2 separate regions of the Homo sapiens genome follow, and region 1 is linked to region 2. The links come from fine-mapping of genetic effects on gene expression. A gene starts in region 2. The other region holds a variant in brackets. All regions are shown on one strand. Distances are between the middles of the regions. Region 1 overlaps ADAM17 (ADAM metallopeptidase domain 17). Region 2 holds the start of ITGB1BP1 (integrin subunit beta 1 binding protein 1).

The links. PIP is the estimated chance that this variant, and not a neighbour inherited with it, causes the effect.
Region 1: its variant is fine-mapped to the expression of ITGB1BP1 in whole blood (TOPMed, PIP above 0.99).

What each region holds. Positions count from the first base shown.
Region 1 is chr2:9,490,833-9,493,745 of GRCh38, reverse strand. ADAM17 (ADAM metallopeptidase domain 17) reads left to right here. Exons shown (of 19, transcript NM_003183.6): 17 at 760-848; 18 at 2,595-2,645. It also overlaps a transcript of IAH1 not described here. Among named protein-coding and RNA genes, the nearest start is that of IAH1, 18 kb to the right of the region's middle. The variant T/C (reference allele first, on the strand shown) is at 1,153.
Region 2 is chr2:9,422,554-9,425,457 of GRCh38, reverse strand. ITGB1BP1 (integrin subunit beta 1 binding protein 1) reads left to right here and starts at 1,930. Exons shown (of 7, transcript NM_004763.5): 1 at 1,930-2,085. It overlaps CPSF3 (cleavage and polyadenylation specific factor 3), which reads right to left and starts at 1,804. Exons shown (of 18, transcript NM_016207.4): 1 at 1,635-1,804. The coding sequence starts at 1,684. RefSeq lists enhancers at 1,568-1,617, 1,658-1,707, 2,578-2,627, 2,621-2,904 and a silencer at 2,138-2,437.

The sequences.
Region 1 (2,913 bases), 68 kb before region 2:
TAGGTGATTTCCCCAGATTACTTACTGAGAGCTGAGTCAATTTCTGTGATGACATTAGAAAAGTGTGCTTTCAGAGTGATGTGCTTTAATTCTGCAGTAGAAGGTGGAACTATTCACAGCTTTAGTTATGAAACAACTTTGTTGGCTAGAATAAAATGAACTCATAGATAGTCTGTCCCCGTGGAGCTTGGATGCACAGATTTTCTGACAAGGGAAATAAAGTCAAAATACTGGCTTCCTTCTTTACCCAAAAATATCCATGTGATTAGCATAAGCATAGTTTAATGCTATAGACTGAATCCTGATTGATGTAAGAGTGTTTATTTGACTGAATGCTATATACTGAATCCTGCTTGATGTAAAAGTGAGCCTCATATTTTGCAGAAGCAGGGTATATCATGTTGTCACGAGTCCATAATTTAATCACAAAAATAATATCCAGGTAACAAAAACTTTGTCTTCTTAAGCATTTACTAGTAGTAGCATTCCATATTAATCTGTTGACACAGCTACTCCAGGTAACATGTTGAATATTCTGCAATCTCTTCCTGTCAGCCAGTATATGAGGGCTATTTCTTTAAAAGCACTTGGTATGGAGAGATGGTGTGGTGTAATACAGGCAGCACAGACATTCTGCTCTCGGTAGTATGTCTAGCCAGCAGCTCTGGCATTTGACACAATGGTAATATCCTAAGAGCATTTCACTTTAGATTTGTGAAGTACTTGGTCAAGACATTAACTGTTTGGAATTGTTCACAGGAAAGTTTTTAGCAGACAACATCGTTGGGTCTGTCCTGGTTTTCTCCTTGATATTTTGGATTCCTTTCAGCATTCTTGTCCATTGTGTGGTAAGTCATCAACTTTTAAGTAATTAAATGTTTTATTTAAATTTTGATCAACTCCAACCATGTAATCTCTGGAAAAGGTAAAACTTGTTCTTAGCAAAGTTTGGCCTGATATTTCCAATAGCTTTTTTTGTTGTTATTCCTAGGGGAACATGTCTTGTAGAAAGCTTAACTAATGGTCTTTTAAAAAAAATACTATTTTTGTGTGTTGGTGTTTTAATATATAAATTTCTTAGGAATTTTATACTTTTAAGCATAGGAGACTGTTTAACTGGATTTGTCCAGGTCCTTTGATGAGTAAAGCCCT[T/C]ATTGAAGAGCATTTTCAGGCTGACTTCGTTGCAATAGAGCAAATATCAAACATCGGCATTTCAGATGTTCCCCATATATCATGTAGATTATTGGCAGCAGATGGCTATGTCTTCAGCCTTCTGCACAAATAGGATGTAGGGACTGGGGCCCAGCTGTCATATAGAGTATTTACATCTTCCCCAAAAAATAAGAGTAAGCAGTCTTTTCTGTTCTCATTCAGAATCAGTAACAGCTACAAGTTGAATTGGGCTTTGACTAAGGAACTCCTGGTCCTTTATAAATTTGAGGCCCTTTTTCATAAATGTTCTTACGAATCCATTCACTTGCATCTGTGGGGAATGGGGATTTGTCTGCTGTAGAGATGAGAAAGTCACACCCAGGCTTCCAGACTTGTTTTCCCAAACTCTTTCATAGTGGCCTTCCTATGAGCATTTAAAAATTCCAGCACAACTCTGATGACAAAGGAGTTTTTCCTACTGCCTCCTTCCTTTCCTTTCCTGCTGGCTTCTCCTGCCTAGGGGCCATCTCACAGAGCAGCTCTTCCTCAGGGTGGTGAGCATGATGGGTATAGGAAGATCTCTAGGGAGCACTTGTGCTGAAGAAAGCTGAAGGTGACGTGCTTGAAGCTTTGACAGATGTCTCTGGATGACAGTGCCATCCATCACGATTGCTTCTATTGGAGGATGGAACCTATTTTGTTTACAGGGAAGTTGCACATGTGGACAAGGCACGACCCTTGATTTCAGAGCAAAGCCTCCGATAGGAGGGAGGGCCATGGCTTGTTTTTGGTCATAGAATGCATTGATGGCACCCAGACAGGAAGCCTAGTCCTGGATTCTTGGTCCTTGCCCTCTGTCACCTATTATGCTTCAGCCACAGGCAGGGATGGGGCAGCAGATGGCCATGTGGTTAGCCTTCTGCAGAAGTAGGATGTAGGGATTGAGGCCCAGTTCCTCCAGCAGAGCATGGTCCACAGAAACTGTGGAGACAGCTAAGAGAGTGAGGCCATGGGCCGGGGCAGTGCGAAGAATGCTGCAGGCCCAGCCACCTGGGTCTTCCTACCAGTTGCCCTTCCAGTCAGTGCGGTCCTGGTGTACCCAGCATCTGGGACATTTGTCATTTCATGCACAGGAAGATGCCTTTATTATTCCCCTGCCCACAGAGGGATAAATTTCTCAGAAAACATAGCACTTAAACCTTGCCTCTTTCTGTACTTAACGCCAAAATGTATTTCCTTTGAGTGCAAAGGAAACACTTCTAGACTGGTGGCATAACTAAAGCTTGGGTGAGAAATGGATTGTCATCTGTTGAGCCTGCTATCACTTTCTACAACTCAGGTTCTAAGTTCTTCAGTTAGTGTTAGGAATAGCCTGTGATGAAATAGTACTCACTAACTGAATTGTATTTGTAGGGAATGACCTTCTTGCTGTTTCTTTCTAGGATAAGAAATTGGATAAACAGTATGAATCTCTGTCTCTGTTTCACCCCAGTGTAAGTATACCATATGAAAGAAACATAATCTTCGCCTGGTCTGAGGCCCTGTTAGGCAAAGACCTTCACCTGACCCAGCAAGAGCTTTCACTGGCTGATGGAAGGTCATGTTGCAGCAGGAAGGGTCTAGGTTGGAATGTTTACCCTTCTGACAACAGTGATGGTGAACTTCGATTAGTTGCATGGATGGACATTTAAAGAGCTGTGCTGTCCCCTTCCCAAGCCATAAGGAGTGATTTAGCCATTCAACACTTAGTTAATATTTTGA
Region 2 (2,904 bases):
AATCTGCTCTACTCAATCCATGCTTTTATTCATCCATGCTTTTATTCATCTGCTACACTGCTGCCAGGAGAGATTTTCCTAAAACATAATTCCCACAATATCCATGCTTGCTTAATAGCCTTCGCTGGCTCCCTGTAATTGACTTGATAAAGGTCCAAACTCCTGTGTATACGAGGTGCTTCCTAAACTGGACCTCAACTGCCTGTCGCTTCATCTGCTAACTCAACTCTTTAGCTACAGCCATGAGGAATCTGGCCACAAGCTGTGACCACTCTCACTTTCATATGTGCCACTTCCACTGCCTAGAACATCCTGGGCCCCCCAGTCTTTAACTCCTACTCATTCTTTAGGACTCAGCTCAGGCATCACATTTTTCAGGATCCACGAGGTATCCTTTTTTCCTCAATCTGTCAGAAATCCCTTTTCCATACTTTCACAGTGCTCAGTGCAATGCCTGCCTGCGTTCTTAGATTAGCTATTATTTACAAAGCACCTACCGCGATGTTCACTCTTCAAGTTTTATCTTATTTCCATATGAGAAAACGGGTTCAGTGAGATTGTTGTCCTACTAATTGGTCAAGTAGATAATGGACTTCAGGTCTGACTTCAAAGTAATAGTCTCCTATTATTCCAAAGTATCTCTCCAATATTTCCCACTGTGCACTGTAATTCTCTCCAAAAGAGCGAGAGCAATTAACTGGGCCCTCTGTTGCGTCTATATCCCCATGTGTGGTGCTTGACACTTGCTCAGTGTTTGCTCATCACAGGAAGACATGACAGGTGTGAACTAAGCAGAAGGAAACGGACTATGTCCCAAGCAGGTGCTCAATGAAGCCTTACTGAATGATTGTGTAAAGGAGATACTTTCTACCTTTTGGAAAGCGTATATTCATGTTGTGCCAACTAGTATCTAACAATAAACATGTTGTGGGTTCGAAATGCTCATCTGTAGGAATTCAAGTTCTCTACATTTGCATCTCCCCTTCAGCAGCATTCCCGACTGATGAGGATCGTGTCCACTGAAAGGCCACTCTCCTTATGGACAGTCGAGGGCTGAGTTTTTGTCCCTAACACCTCTGCACTTTCTCTTCTCCAGCTTTACACCTTCCTTATTCTACTAGGGCCTGAGCTGAGAAGATCGAAACTCACGGCAAGTCCCTAATATTTTCTAACTTCTGGCACATGTGAAGCCCTGGTGTTAAGAAACAGACTTAATTCTTCCCTGCACGGCTGTAGCCTCATTCAGGTCCTCCTCTCATCCTGTCGGTCATAAGCTTCACCGGCTCCCTCACAGCTTGCCCTGACGCGCAGAGATCCGTGCTTGTGCTAAGTGAAAACGCTTCTTAGCGTGTACGAAAGCGAGCGGTGGCCCCGTAAAACTTTTTTTTTTCCGACTCCAACATACCCTCCCCTGAAACTGATGAAAAAGCAAAATCCCGTTCACTCTATAGCAGGCCCCTTCCGATCAACGGTCCTCCAACCCCTCGAGCCTGAGAAGCCTGGCCCGCAAGCGCGGACCAAAGGCAGGCTGCCGGGGTAGGTGGGAGCGCGGGCGACGGAGGAGGCCAGTCTCCGGTTACCCCTCGCGCCCCTCACAGCCCGTGGCTTCATTCCCTCTCTCGCTGGTCCCTTACAGGGGTCGGATCAGCAGCTGGTCGCTCTCCTCAGCAGGAATCGCAGACATCCCGAAAGTGTGAGGGCGAAGCGGGGGTGAGGAACAGGTCGCCGGGGTCTTCCTAAATTGGAAGCACAGCCACCGGTAAATAAAAAAGGAAGAACCCCATTCACCAAGAGCACAACTTCCGTCACTCCGGAGCCCGCGGCACTAGACTCCTCCCCTCGACTTCCGGTCGGGGGACGCCGCTCGCGAGGCTTCCCACCACTTGGGGTCTTGGAACCGGGGGTAGGACGTCAGGACTGCGCCTGCGCATAGTCTTGGAGGCGCGGCCCGGCGGACGTGGGCAGGAGGGCTGGAAAAGCCGGCGCTGGAGCGGGAACGGGAGTAGCTGCCTGGGCGCCAAAGGCCGCGGCACTCCCACGCGGACCCCGAAGTCCGCAACCCGGGGATGGGCCCGCGGCTGCGAGGTGAGCGCCCAGCCCTCGTCCCGCTTGGGGCCGAGCTCGCGGAGGCCTGACGGGAACACGGTCCCGAGAGCGGCGCGGACGGCCAGGAAGGATGGGTGGGGCCGCGGGGCGGGCGGAGGAGGGATGCCTGGGCTCGGGCTTGGTTCCGGGCGGGGCCGCGCTCCCGGGGCGCGGGTGGAGGAGCTTGGAACCACGCAGATCGGGCGTGGGCTTGCGGACTGCAGCTTCCCGAGCCGCTGTCGCCCCGGAGGGGCGGCAAGGCGGGCGGCCGCGGGCCGTTTCCTTGCCTCTTCCTCTGCCCCGCTTCGGCCGCCTCCCGCCTCTCAGGGTCGGGGTTGTCTGTCCCCTTCGCTGTCACATCCTCCGCACCCAGCGCTTGGAAGGTGCTCCATCACGGTGACAGACAGGTGCCAAGCAGGCTGGCGTCTGGGAGGAACTTCGGAGCCGGCTCTCCCTAGGCCCCGAGCTTGGCCGCATCCGTCCTTACTCTGGTGACCCTGGGCAGGTCACTGACTCTTCGGGCGCTTTGGCATCCTCGTTTGAAAGGGGCTGTTATCCTGCAGCCTTGCTGGTCGGTGAGGGTGAGGGTGAGAGGGATCTGTGCACCTAGCACCGTGCATGGCACGTGGTAGGCGTTTGGTACATGGGAATCGCTGTTGGGGTGTCACCTCCCCAGAAAGTTCTCGGCTTCAGTAAGCGCGTCCCCTGCCAGGCGCCCTGGCAATGCAGAGGAGTCACCGAGCTCCGCCTTTGACCAGCGTGCAGCTGGGAGAGTGAGATCAGAGACCACAGCAGATCGTGGCGCTGTGATCAGGGGGT